Homo sapiens: one gene and its partner. The protein of the gene in region 1 interacts with the protein of each later gene in a pairwise test. Each region holds a gene or a part of one and is shown in the gene's direction. Other genes may lie near its edges. The genes, in order: ITGA6 and USP40.

Evidence for each region.
Region 2: the proteins of ITGA6 (region 1) and USP40 interact in a two-hybrid assay, tested with the Homo sapiens proteins (one study listed by BioGRID).

What each region holds. Positions count from the first base shown.
Region 1 is NC_000002.12:172,486,505-172,493,786, forward strand, and holds part of ITGA6 (integrin alpha-6 isoform b preproprotein), read left to right. Parts: intron 1-518; coding exon 519-634; intron 635-759; coding exon 760-949; intron 950-1,042; coding exon 1,043-1,126; intron 1,127-1,223; coding exon 1,224-1,303; intron 1,304-1,456; coding exon 1,457-1,534; intron 1,535-1,621; coding exon 1,622-1,724; intron 1,725-2,034; exon of another isoform or gene 2,035-2,145; intron 2,146-2,980; coding exon 2,981-3,154; intron 3,155-4,519; coding exon 4,520-4,618; exon of another isoform or gene 4,619-4,716; coding exon 4,717-4,827; exon of another isoform or gene 4,828-4,920; coding exon 4,921-5,019; exon of another isoform or gene 5,020-7,282. UniProt on the Homo sapiens protein: Integrin alpha-6/beta-1 (ITGA6:ITGB1) is a receptor for laminin on platelets. Integrin alpha-6/beta-1 (ITGA6:ITGB1) is present in oocytes and is involved in sperm-egg fusion.
Region 2 is NC_000002.12:233,563,613-233,571,347, reverse strand, and holds the start of USP40 (ubiquitin carboxyl-terminal hydrolase 40), read left to right. Parts: upstream 1-4,565; 5' UTR 4,566-4,664; exon of another isoform or gene 4,665-5,001; intron 5,002-5,774; 5' UTR 5,775-5,793; coding exon 5,794-5,992; intron 5,993-7,735. UniProt on the Homo sapiens protein: May be catalytically inactive.

The sequences.
Region 1 (7,282 bases):
CTTAAGCTCTCTGTTTCGTCATCTCTACAATGGAGATCATAATAATAGTATCTTTTTAGAGGCCTGTTGTGAGGATTAAATGAGTTAAGATATGTAAATCGAGTATTATAATCGTTGGTATCATCATTATTATTGATACTTCTTATAGTAGCCCTATAAAGTTAGAATGGTGGTATCTCCACGTTACCTATGATGAAACTTGGACTCTGAAAGGTTAAGTGACTTGCTAGCTAAGTAAGGGGTAGAGCTGCGTTTCAAACCCAAATCTGTGTGGCTGCTGGGTCACACTCTTCTATACCACACTGCCTCCATGCCCTGGTCAAAGTGTTCTTCAAACACAATTTTACTAAAGGACAGAATGGAAATTTGATGTGTGGCAAAGTACATTTAAAGCTTGAATTCTGCATTGGTAATTGTCACACAGGGAAATGAACTGTGTGGAATAGCCAGTCACCTACATCGATGCCTTCCTGAGTCCTGAATGGTGTAAATTGACAATAGTTTTCGTTTTCCTACAGGTTCACTTCTTAAAAGAGGGATGTGGAGACGACAATGTATGTAACAGCAACCTTAAACTAGAATATAAATTTTGCACCCGAGAAGGAAATCAAGACAAATTTTCTTATTTACCAATGTAAGAATCGTTGTGTAGCACTAGCAAAAATGATTCTGGCTTCATGGTGGCTTTGTGTTAAGAAAGTTTACTGGAAACGTATTGAGGACTTTGCCTTTTTGTTCTTGTTTTCTTATTTTTAATAGTCAAAAAGGTGTACCAGAACTAGTTCTAAAAGATCAGAAGGATATTGCTTTAGAAATAACAGTGACAAACAGCCCTTCCAACCCAAGGAATCCCACAAAAGATGGCGATGACGCCCATGAGGCTAAACTGATTGCAACGTTTCCAGACACTTTAACCTATTCTGCATATAGAGAACTGAGGGCTTTCCCTGTAAGTATTGTTAGAGACCAGCTGAGAGGGGAAAAAAATCAACACTGTGTGGCAAATGAGTGGATTGTGACCTAGCGTGTGTTTCTTTTACAGGAGAAACAGTTGAGTTGTGTTGCCAACCAGAATGGCTCGCAAGCTGACTGTGAGCTCGGAAATCCTTTTAAAAGAAATTCAAATGTAGGTGATGCCTTCATATACTGTATTTTACTGTTTTAAATACCATTGCAGTGTCTGTATGCATGGCCTGTGTTAACAGCTATTTATGTTTTTTTAGGTCACTTTTTATTTGGTTTTAAGTACAACTGAAGTCACCTTTGACACCCCAGATCTGGATATTAATCTGAAGTTAGAAACGTAAGAGTTACATCAACCTCTCCATTCAGAATTATTTCATGAAAATATGGGCAGTCAATGAATTGGCCCTGATCTACCTCATAAAAGAAGTCTAATTGTAGTGAGAAAACTGACTGGTAAAATACAACCCTATTGTTTCCTTTTCATTTTCAGAACAAGCAATCAAGATAATTTGGCTCCAATTACAGCTAAAGCAAAAGTGGTTATTGAACTGCTTTTATCGGTCTCGGGGTAAGTGTTTGTGTTTAGCATAACAAATCAATGTTTGAAAGAACCATTTACAATCCTCATTAAAACTGGTGTTTTTTAATTTGACAGAGTTGCTAAACCTTCCCAGGTGTATTTTGGAGGTACAGTTGTTGGCGAGCAAGCTATGAAATCTGAAGATGAAGTGGGAAGTTTAATAGAGTATGAATTCAGGGTAAGTTGGAGCAGTTGGTCTTTTCATTATACCAAAAGCTGACATATACTAGGTATGGTCTTGAGTATGTCATTTTAATAAATCAGCAATATTAATAAGCATTGTAAGTAAATCATGAGTTAAAAATTAGTTTGCCAGCTTTTAAAGAACATACTGGCTTATAGTAAAAATTTTATCCTCCAGGATGGAGAACAATTGTCACTGTTCAGAATCCAGTTCAGTTTAGAATGCGTTATGATTTATTCCTTCCTCCTTTATAAGGTCATCTTTCTCACTGCTTGTGGTTGAAAGAATATTAATGTATGCCTACCTTTCACAAGCCCAGTTTTTGTGGTGAATGTAGATTTGGTATATGCCTGTAGGAAAGGCAGTGACTGGCTCTGAACCATTTCAAAGTAGGCAATCACAGTGACTCTCTGTCCTGTTGAATAAACATAAACATAGGGTACAGAGTCTGTTCGTAACTCACACATGGGTTTAGGTCTGTGTGGCTGAAATCACATTCCTGAAGGCATAGTGACCACTGTGGTGAAAGCCTCAAATGGCAAGCATGGGCCCACCTGACTCCGGCAGAATGAAGAGGCTGAATTCTCCTCTGTGTGTCTCTTAGCATTATAGACACAGCTGGGGCAGGTGGTGGTGGTGGTTATGATCTCTATGCAGGTGCAGCTGGAAAAGAAGTCTTTGGGTTCTGGAACAGTCTCGACACCAAGAGGGCTCTTACCTCCTGTGTTTGGCTTCTGCCGCAGGACGTCACTCTGTTCCCAGCTTGGACTCTCAGATTCATGGCTGTCCTAATAATGGTTTTGCAGAATCTCCTCTGGGACAGAGGCAGCTTCATTTTTGCAGTGGATGGGGTTTTCCAGAAGCAGGTTGTTGGTACACTGCCTTGGCCCAGGACTTGTCATTGGCCAAGCAGGGTGGTTACAGGGCAGTTCACAAATTCACACATGATTTTCCCTGGGCGTATGTTGAGAACATGGTATATCTACACTGCTGATTCTGTTGCATACAGCAGTTGTTCCTAGAACGAGTTAGCTATCAGTTGTCCTTTGACCTTTTTGTTTTTATTTACAAAAATCTTTAGGCACAAGTCTTTATTTTGAATGCCCTATCTATAGTCCATTTTTGGAGCCTGTGCTTTTATTATAGGATTACGTTAGATATTTTAGCTTCTTTCTCTTGGTAAAAGGAGCTGCTACTTAAATTTACATTGAGAAGATTAGACTGAGATAATATGTATTATTTTCTAACAGGTAATAAACTTAGGTAAACCTCTTACAAACCTCGGCACAGCAACCTTGAACATTCAGTGGCCAAAAGAAATTAGCAATGGGAAATGGTTGCTTTATTTGGTGAAAGTAGAATCCAAAGGATTGGAAAAGGTAACTTGTGAGCCACAAAAGGAGATAAACTCCCTGAACCTAACGGTATGTCGGTAGATTTATCTAATGTCTCCATAAATGCAAATTAGAGAAACTAACTTGTTAGGGGAAAATCATTACTGTTCTTAGGAAAGTGGCATATTCTGGCAGGTTGACTTTCTCTTTGGTTGTCACAATTTCTCTTTTCTAGTTGGGTAACTGAGGGAGGCTGAGGCATTTTTGCTGGTTAATGACCATTATAGTACATAAGGCAGAGTCATTCAGTGCTTGCTGAGGCAAATGGTATTTTCTGATGTTTCATCATGACCCAGTATGTTACATAATAAGGAGAACTGGGGGATGCTCCTGGGGTAATAGTAGCTGCTGTTATCCAGGGGCCAGCCAGTGTTCACTCCAAGTAGAACCAAACTCATTGGAAAAGATAATGGCATCTCAGCAAGTAACCTTGAAAGCTTTTTATGCTTATTTTTAAAATAGTAATTATTTATTGTGTACTCATTGTGTCTCAGGAACTATGCTAAGCATTTTGTTTTCATTTTCTCATTTCATTCTCTGGATGGTCCTATGAGGGCGTTTCATTATCCTCACCATTTCACAGATGAGGACATTAAGATTCAGAGAGCAAGTAACTCTCTCAGTCACTCAGGCGTTAAGAGACAGATTCCACATACAAGCCCTGCTCTGCCTGATGTCAAAGCCTGTACTGTTAACCCCTCTCTCTATACTGCTCCATGCTTAGATAACTGGCCTATCATTTGTGTTCCAGTTTGATGAAGGTTTGCATGTTTATTTCTTTTATTTTAAATTCTAAGGTGACTGGGTATGATCAGTGATCAGAGTTGGTGGCTTATAGCATGATCTTCTACTCATCAATGTTAAAAATCAAGATAATCGGTTATTACTAATCTTTGCTATAAGGAAAATGCAATTTTAAAAGTTCTTGTATGGCTTAGTTTTCATTGCTCTGCTCTGAATGAGCTATATAATGGGTCTTTTTGCTTCTTTCTCTGTTCTTCAGTGTCACTTATTCCTTCAAGATGTGCTGACTACCATGTTTTAGGAACAGAGCTGGAGGCTAGGGATACAGGAATAAGATTTGATCTCTGATCTCAGTATGCCCACAGTTTGGTGGGGATACAGAGGAACAAAGAAAGCATATTTCTCTTTCTCTGAGTTTTAAGGTCAGAGTGGGAATGAATTACTTAGTCCTATGAGTAAATCAATAAACTTGAATTTAGAGTGATAATACTTGCTGGTTTTACACTTACTTCTGTGCCTTTGGCAGGAGAGAGGCAAATATTGTTGATTATGTGAATCTGGCACTGTTTGGGAGGATATGCTCAAGAGGCTTGTATGGTAATGACAAAGAATTACATAAATTGGAACTATTTTGGATATAATTTTTTTCAGGAGTCTCACAACTCAAGAAAGAAACGGGAAATTACTGAAAAACAGATAGATGATAACAGAAAATTTTCTTTATTTGCTGAAAGAAAATACCAGACTCTTGTAAGTATTTTTCAAGAGCTGTGAATATTTGAGAGGATGAGGGGAAGGATTTCTTCAGAACAATGTCTTTTGATGACCATTCTTCTTTTTCTCTCTAGAACTGTAGCGTGAACGTGAACTGTGTGAACATCAGATGCCCGCTGCGGGGGCTGGACAGCAAGGCGTCTCTTATTTTGCGCTCGAGGTTATGGAACAGCACATTTCTAGAGGTATGACCTTGGCTTGAGGCTGTCCCATGGAAGTAATTTGCCTTTGCCTAGGACACTTTTCACTTCCCTAATGCATTCACTGTCTCCAAACAGGAATATTCCAAACTGAACTACTTGGACATTCTCATGCGAGCCTTCATTGATGTGACTGCTGCTGCCGAAAATATCAGGCTGCCAAATGCAGGCACTCAGGTGAGAGGTTCCCCAGCTTCATTCAGGTTCAGAACATGTCTCTTTTCCCTGTACCCCACACTCATGTCCTGAAGTCATGTGCTTTGGTGCTCATTTCCCTCATAGCCCCATTACGGAGAAAACTGTCTTAAGGTACTGGCACTGCAAGCTGTATTTTAATAGAATCATTGAAAAAAAGAAGTAAATCTAGGGTCATCCAGTTCAGCAGTGCCCATGGTAGGTTTGAGAACTACTGGCTCAATTCAGAGAATGGGTGCACCTCACAGCCCTCTAGAAACCTGTGTCTTCTACCATCTCTAATGCTGCAGCCATTGGTGTAATGCCCCAGTGATGGCCCATCCCTTGGCCAGCTGTAATTATTAAAAAAGATCTCTTCATAGCTGACTCCTGAACTGAACCTTGTAAGTCCCTGGTTATGCCCCTCAAACAAGTCTAAAATAAGTTCTCTCTCTTGGCCATGTAGCAGCCTCTCAAATAATTGAAGGAAATGGTCATGCCTCCTTGGATGTTTCTTATTCTTCTCAGAGCTTATGCACCCAGCTCTTGAGTTATGCGTCACATTGGGCACAGCTGAACTGGCTCCTGGCCTCTCCCTTCCTGGGCAATTTGATTCCCACGTGGACAGAGCAGCTGAGGTGGGGTCTGCTTGGTCCCACTTACCCTGGGGCCTTTACCTCTCAGCATCTCGGCACCACACTTCTGTCAGACCTGCCTAAAATTTGCTTTTTCAAACCATTGCTGAGCAGCATGTTTGAATTTCTAGCAGCTGCTATTTTTGTGTTAGTGTTCTACTGAAACTTCCAGGTGTTTTCATCAGAATTTGTTGTCAAGCTGTGTTTCCAGTATCCTGTCCTTGAGCTATTTGTAAAAATCTAAATGTATGCCTTTAAGTGTATCCTTACATTTTATGTGATTTGCTTTGGGTCCATTGTTTCAGTTTGCAAAGTAATTCTGAATCTTGCTTCATCATTTGCTTTCTCAACTTTCTATCCCTGAAAGTTTTAAAAACTGAGAAGCATGTTCTCTATGTCTTCATCCAGGTAATGACAAATATGTTGAATAGGACTAGGTGTAGAACCTTGTAGTGAACCAATAGTGAGGGGTTCCCTGTGGGAGTCTAGAACCCACAGGGACTTGTATAAAGATCTCGAGGCAGAATGACTGCATGTCATGGTGGGAATAATGAATGGGAATGTTTTGCAAAAGAGACTGGAGAAAGAAATACTGTGAATTACTGTTCTTAAGTTAATCTGCCAGTCTACTTATGGAAATGTTCTGGCTTCAGTCATTTAGCTAGCTGAAAATTCAGGGAGCCTCCCTAATCATTCTGTTTTCTGAAATATAGCAGTCCTTACGATTTATTATCCAAGCAAGAATACATTTTTGTTTTTATTTAGTTTTTTGAGATGGAGTCTTGCTCTGTTACCCAGGCTGGAGTGCAGTGGCGCAAACACAGCTCACTGCAGCCTTGAATGCCTGGGCTCAAGCAATCCTCCTGTCTCACCTCCTGAGTAGCTGGGACCACAGGCATGCCACCACGCCCAGCTAATTTTTCAGTTTTTTTTGTATAGCCAGAGTCTCACCATGTTGCCCAGGCTGGTCTTTAACTCCTGGACTCAAGCAATCCGCCTGCCTCAGCCTCCCAAAATGCTGGGATTATAGGTGTGAGCCACTGCACCCAGCCCCAGGATACATTTGCCTGAGACAAATGCTGTACTGGGCAAGCTGCTGCGATAAGTGGTATCAACCAGCACTGTCCCGGTCTCTCCAGGACATATCAACAGGCATCATAAGGGACTTTCAAATAAACCACACCTTCCCTAAGGATCCTTTCTCTGCATCTATAAAGGCAGCAGGTATAGCTTTCTATAACTGTAAATCAGCAACTCTGAAAATCACTGAGATTTCAGAGCTAGACAGAGAACACTTTAGAGGGAAGGGACTAACATTAATGAAGCCTTAATAAAATGTCTGCAGCTTACTAGATACTTTATACTCTATCATTCAAACTTCAGAAGAATGCCAAGGGTAAACATTGTACTCATTTTACAAACAAGGAAGCAGACTCAGAGAGGGGATATAATTTGAGACCCTCAATTGAAACCTGTAATTGTCTGACTTCAGGGCTTCTGTTCTTTGACTCTGTGGCACTTGGTCCCCTTAAAGTCCCCAAATCTCAAATTGAGATAAGAAAACTGAATCCAAGGAAAGGTATCTCCCCGTCAGGGTCACCCGACCAGCAAGTAGAGCTGAGACCAGACCT
Region 2 (7,735 bases), about 61 Mb from region 1:
TGAAATGAGTCAGTGTTCACTCTCTTTTTTTTCTTGTTTTCCATTGTTGTTTTTGCTATTGTAGGTCCGTTACATTTCCATAAGAATTTTAGAATCAGTTTGCCAATTTGCACAAAAAAAAAGCCTGCTGGGATTTGGTTGGGATTGTATTGAATTTATAGATGAACTGGGAGAACTGACATCTTAAAAATTTTGAGTTTTTCAATTCATGAACATGACTGTGTATTTAGGTCACTCATTAAAGTTTTGTAGTTTTTAGTGTACAGTCTTTCACATCTTTTGTCAGATTTAGCCCTAAGTATTTCATATTTTTATGCTATTTTGAGTGGTATTTTCATTCCAATTTTCAATTGTTCATTGCTGCTACAGCTGACCCTTGAATAAAGCGAGGATTAGGGGCACCAACTTCGTGCAGTCAAAAATGAGCATAGAACTTTTGACTACCCTAAAACATAACTACAGTAGCCTACTGTTTGCTGGAAGCCTTGCCAATAACATAAAGTCAATTAATAAATATTTTGTGTAATATATGTATTATATGCTGTATTTTTCTTACAATAAAGTCTGCTAGAGAAAAGAAAATGTTAAAATTCATAAGGAAGAGAAAAGATCTTTACTGCCAGGCGCGGTGGCTCAGGCCTGTAATCCCAGCACTTTGGGAGGCCAAGGCGGGCAGATCACCTGAGGTCAGGAGTTCGAGACTAGCCTTAACATGGTGAAACCCCGTCTCTACTAAAAATACAAAAAATTAGCCGGGCGTGGTGTTGCATGCCTGTAATCCCAGCTACTCGGGAGGCTGAGCCAGGAGAACTGCTTGAACCTGGGAGGCAGAGGTTGCACTGAGCCGAGATCACGCCATTGCACTCCAGCCTGGGCAACAAGAGTGAAACTCCATCTCAAAAAAAAAAAAAAAGAAAGAAAAAAAGAAAAAGAAAAGATCTTTACTATTCATTAAGTGAAAGTGTATCACCATAAAGGTCTCCATGCTCACTGTCTCCCATTGAGTGGGCTGTTGAGGAGGGGTGGGGGTAGGGGGAAGTTGGTCTTGCTGTTTCAGGAGTGGCAGAGGGGGAATTGGTGGAGGAGGTGGAAGGGGAAGCAGGAGAGACAGGCACACTCAGTTTGACTTTATGGAAATACATCATAATTACTGTCTGATAGTTTTGCTTTTTCAATTCTTTAAAAATGCCTGAGCTGTGCGCAGTGGCTCACGCCTGTAATCTCCGCACTTTGGGAAGCTGAGGTGGGTGGATCATGAGGTCAGGTGTTTGAGACCAGCCTGGTCAACACAGTGAAACCCCATCTCTACTAAAACTACAAAAAATTAGCTGGGCGTGGTGGCGGGCACCTGTAATCCCAGCTACTTAGGAGGCTGAGGCAGGAGAATCACTTGAACCTGGGAGGCAGAGGTTGCAGTAAGCCAAGATCGCACCACTGCACTCCAGCCCAGGTGACAGTGCAAGACTCTGTCTCAAAAAAATAAAATAAAAATAAATAAATAAATAAAAATGCTTGCATACAGTACTAATCCTTCTTCTACTATTTGCTTTAGTTTCAATGCCCGTATCATAGAAGGGTCCAAGTTGTAAAAGAAGTCAAAAGCAGTCTTAAATAATCAGAACCCTTCTGCAAGATTGTCTAATGTCAATTCATTTTCTGACAGTGCTTCTTCTATATCTTCTTCCTCATTCTCTGGTACTGATTCAAAAGCACTCATCTCCATCAAGTCATCTTCTGTTAATTCCTCAGATGTGGTATCTATTAACTCTTGAATTTCCCCAAGATCTAGATCTTCAAACACTTTATGCCTCTTTTTTTTTTTTTTGGTGCCATATCCACAATCTCTTCCATGACTTCCTTGATAGGCTGTTGTAAATCCTGTGAACTCACACACAACATCTGGAATCTGGACGCAGTTTTCTTCAGCACTAATGTATTGTTTGGGGCTTGATGGCTTTCACAGCTTTTTCTGTAACAACATGGGCTTCTTCAATGGTGTAATCCTTCTGGACTTTCACGATATTCTCCCTGTTGAGATTCTCTTCCATAGTGTTGACACCCCTTTCCATAGAAAACCGTACGTAATGAGCCTTAAAGTTCCTTATGACCCCTTGATCTAAGGGCTGAATTAGACATGTTGTGTTTAGGGGCAAGGAGGCCACTTTGGTGCTCTCATTGCAGAATCTATGGGGTTCTGGGTGGCCAGGGACATTGTCCAATATCAAAAGCAATTTAAAAGGAAGTCCCTTACTGGCAAGGTACTTCCTGACTTCAGGGACAGAGCATTGGTTTTCATGGAACCAAACCAGAAAAAGTGTTTTCGTTGTACAGGGCTTTTTATCATAAAACAAAAAGACTTGCAGCTGGTGTTTATCTTTTCCCTTAAAGGCTCAGGGATTAGCAGCTTTATAGATGGCACATTTGAAAGCACTTTGGTAAATAGGTGTGTAGTGAGAAATACAGTATGAAAAGAATGTTGGGACCATCAGCGAACTAAGAATCAAAATAAAGAATTTCCACAGTGGATGTTGAGAAATCGTGGAAGCTTCTTTAGCAGAGAGGTTTGAGCTCAAAGTGCACCTTAGATGGATAGTGCATCTTATAGTGACGTGCAGGAAGGGGTGTGTAAAACGGGAGTCCACTGAAAAGGCTATCATCCTAATGCAGGTGAGATTTCATGGGGATCTGATAGGAGGAGAGGAAGCTATGGAATGAAAGGATTGTCCAGACAATACTTTGACATGCCATTAGTTTGATTCACAGACGAAAGACAAAGATATAAGATTATATAAATATAATCTTATATCTTTATAAATGTGACCACTCATTCATTCATATTTATAAGATTATATAACTATAATCTTATATAAGGTTATATAACTATAATCTTATATAAGGTTATATAACTATAATCTTATATAAGGTTATATAACTATAATCTTATATAAGGTTATATAACTATAATCTTATATAAGGTTATATAACTATAATCTTATATAAGGTTATATAACTATAATCTTATATAAGGTTATATAACTATAATCTTATATAAGGTTATATAACTATAATCTTATATAAGGTTATATAACTATAATCTTATATAAGGTTATATAACTATAATCTTATATAAGGTTATATAACTATAATCTTATATAAGGTTATATAACTATAATCTTATATAAGGTTATATAACTATAATCTTATATAAGGTTATATAACTATAATCTTATATAAGGTTATATAACTATAATCTTATATAAGGTTATATAACTATAATCTTATATAAGGTTATATAACTATAATCTTATATAAGGTTATATAACTATAATCTTATATAAGGTTATATAACTATAATCTTATATAAGGTTATATAACTATAATCTTATATAAGGTTATATAACTATAATCTTATATAAGGTTATATAACTATAATCTTATATAAGGTTATATAACTATAATCTTATATAAGGTTATATAACTATAATCTTATATAAGGTTATATAACTATAATCTTATATAAGGTTATATAACTATAATCTTATATAAGGTTATATAACTAATCTTATATAAGGTTATATAACTATAATCTTATATAAGGTTATATAACTATAATCTTATATAAGGTTATATAACTATAATCTTATATAAGGTTATATAGCTATAATCTTATATAAGGTTATATAGCTATAATCTTATATAAGGTTATATAGCTATAATCTTATATAAGGTTATATAGCTATAATCTTATATAAGGTTATATAGCTATAATCTTATATAAGGTTATATAGCTATAATCTTATATAAGGTTATATAGCTATAATCTTATATAAGGTTATATAGCTATAATCTTATATAAGGTTATATAGCTATAATCTTATATAAGGTTATATAGCTATAATCTTATATAAGGTTATATAGCTATAATCTTATATAAGGTTATATAGCTATAATCTTATATAAGGTTATATAGCTATAATCTTATATAAGGTTATATAGCTATAATCTTATATAAGGTTATATAGCTATAATATAGCTATACTCTTATATAAGATCATATAGCTATACTCTTATATAAGATCATATAGCTATACTCTTATATAAGATCATATAGCTATAATCTTATATAAGATCATATAGCTATAATCTTATATAAGATCATATAGCTATAATCTTATATAAGATCATATAGCTATAATCTTATATAAGATCATATAGCTATAATCTTATATAAGATCATATAGCTATAATCTTATATAAGGATCATATAGCTATAATCTTATATAAGATCATATAGCTATAATCTTATATAAGATCATATAGCTATAATCTTATATAAGATCATATAGCTATAATCTTATAAATGTGAACGAATGAGTGGTCCGCTGGCCGAGTGGACCCGCGAACTCACCAGCGGACTTGTAAGCGAGCTCACCTTGCCCGCTCCCGCTCCCGCTCCAGTTCCCAAACTCTTGGAGCAGAAGAGTTACATTTCCCATAAGGCCCCGTGCGAGGGGCCGGCGCTCCAGCGGGGCATCCTGGGAAGCATAGTCCACGATCCATAAATCACTTTCTGGAGACCCGCCCTCGCCAACATGGCGGCGCCCAGTTGGGGCGGGTTCGTTCGCTTCGCGTTTTGGCCAGGGCGGGGGTCTGGGCTTTAGGCAGTAAGTGCGGCTGGCGCCCGGGGATCCTGGGAGGGACGTGGGAAGCGTAGGGACAGTGTTGGTGGCCCAGTCTGAGGAGGGCGAGGCGAGAGGCTGCCCAGGCCTGCCTGAGGACGCGGCGCTCTCCTGGAGTCGGGGCAGTGGTTTCGGGCCACGGGGACCTCTGCCTTTTTGCGCCCCTGGGCCTGTGGTGGCTTGGAGGGCCTCGGCCGGCCGTAGGAGTTGGGAATTCAGGAATGCAGACAACGAGCTCGAGGCTAGACTCTCGAGTTGTGTTTTTTTAGTTTTCTTCTGAGGAAAAGAAAAATAATTGCATTTCAGCGCTTCCTGTCATTTGGTACCTATGCTAGGCGCTTTACGTTTCTCATCTCCAAGTGACCCTCCGCCACACTCGATGTGAAACCTTGGGGAAGTCACCTAGGCCCCCAGGGCTAACGATGGGATTAGTGGATACATACTGGAAGGCCTTTAGGCTTGATAATTTTAGTGGCAGTCTTCCCCGCCCTCCGCTCCCCTTCCCCCCTCCCTCCCCAGTGAACTGACTTCCGGCCCAACAGCTTCGGGACTGTACTAAAGTGCTCTAAAAAAAGTTAACTTGATCTGTTTAATTTAAATGTCATAATCTGGTATATAGTACTGAAGGGTGTGACAAGCAGAGATTTTAGAGAGTTGATTCTCAGAATTTAGGGTTGGCTTTGCCGTCCCAGCAGTGGATTAGTTGTGGCAACAGGTTTTCTTTTTTAAAAAAATTAGTGATGTGAACGTGCCTTTTTAAAAACAGCTGTTACTTATTGTGGGCCAAACCCTGTACACTAACTGCCCTTCTTTCGTTATGTCATTGGATAGTTTAAATGACCCGAAGAGACAGATGGTATCCTATTTTACACATAAGAAAACAGATTAACATATCCAGGGTCACACAGGTAGTTAGGGTCCTGATAGGGATGAAAAAAATCTAGATCTTGCTGCCTCCAAAACCCAACTACTGTACATAGAAACAGTAGTCCTGTGTTCTAAGAAACAACAGAATCGACTCCCAAGTGTAAGGTAGGGGGATTTGGGGAAAATTTATTTTAAAAATAAAAGCATTTATATGTCACTTTTTTTAAGGGTAGTATTTAGTTTCACAATGTTTGGGGACCTGTTTGAAGAGGAGTATTCCACTGTGTCTAATAATCAGTATGGAAAAGGGAAGAAATTAAAGACTAAAGCTTTGGAGCCACCTGCTCCTAGAGAATTCACCAATTTAAGCGGAATCAGAAATCAGGGTGGAACCTGTTACCTCAATTCCCTTCTTCAGACTCTTCATTTCACACCTGAATTCAGAGGTATGCTATGTTACGTACATTTAACTAGCAATATGTACCATCTTCTTTACATGTAATTAATTATGCAAAATCACAAATAGACCAATTATCTTAAAGATATATTCTACAGTATGTGTTTATTGTTGCACATATAAGATATAAATTGGTAATTCCCTCTGCAGAGAAATGTGAAGCTTAATCTTAAATATATCCTGGGTGATGACAATAATGTTTAGTAAAAAAATAAAGCAATATATTTCTTTTTTAATTCCTGTAATTTAAAGTACAACGTAAAGACAATTGTCATAAGTATCAGTCTTCATTATTGTTACACTGTTTGAGTTTTAAGATTTCTCTAGAATAACAAACACTTAAGCCAGAGTTATCCAACCAATTATATCTACCTTTTGGAGTGGGGAAGGGTGTCATATTATTTATATGGGTGCACAGTTGTTCATACGCATTTCTGAAATCTGGAAAGCTCACACCCTCATCTGATCTCACCTGAGCTTGTTTGGCTTCAGAACCAGACCTGGTGTGAGGCTATTTACAGTTTTTAGTTATCTCATGTGGGTGAATGTTCATACATTCATTACAGGAATATTAATCTGCTTGATTAATGGAAGCTGGCCCAGACCCTGCTGGGAATGTAACATTTTATATATATATAAAAAACACTTTTTTCATATTATCTTTATAAACTCTGGAAATTCTGAATTCCAAAGACCCAGAGATTTTAGGTAAGGGATTGTGTGCAAGAAACAGACCCACCACCCAAATTAGCTAAATTTAAAAGGGGGGTTATTGTAAGAATATAGGGGATCTCAGAAATCAACTGCAGGAAGCCAGCCTGACCTTACTGGACCCTTGATTTCTTGCCCCTGTTTCTCTCTATATATTTCTCCCATACCCCATCTCTGCAAACCAGCTTCCTCCACAAGGGTCCTAGGAGCTGTGTTCCCGTGAGCTCAGTGTGAACATTACTTTGCCTTCACCTGGCCCTGACTGGGGTCCCCAGCACTACATGGCTTTGTAGCTCAGCTCTCCACAGTGTCTCCATATTAGGAGGACAGACAGCCTGACTCATCCTATCTGGTTTGCCATGTTCCTCTTCCCTACTGCCACCACATTTATCAAATCTTTGTGGTTCTTCTGTTGCTTCTAAGCTTAGAAAGACTTGCTGCCTCCAGAGATTTAGTAAATATTTACCGCTGTTACCTTCCTAGGAGCAATTTAATGGGTTGGATTGCATGTGGGATTTAAGTGGTACCTCTTAGCCTTGACTCGATCCCCTCCATAAAAATATCTCCCTGATGCAATCAGTAATTCCACCAGTAAAAATTGCCAGCACTAATAAGTACATTTCTAATAGGGATAACACTTTTCCAGGTTTTAATATAGTTGAAGTTAAAGGACAACTCGAAGTAGAAACGTAGCCTCAAAGGGACTGAGGAAGATGGTGAAGTGTAGGGCGGGTCATGGAGCGTACCATTAGGCAAGAGTAGTACTGAGAGTCCCAGGCCAACTTCCTCTCCAGCAGAGGGGATTGCTGGCCAAGCATATGATTTGACATCTTAGTGCACAATGTGCACTGCTTGTATAGCTTAGCCTGAATCCTGATGGTGACTGACAGGGAGGTATAATTTGGAAAGAATAAGGACTGTCAGAGAACTGGCGGGGGAAATTTTGGAATAGTATTTTAAATAATAGGGCTACATTGGGTTCCATTGTACTCCATTACAATGTAGCTGAGAGTACTGGGAG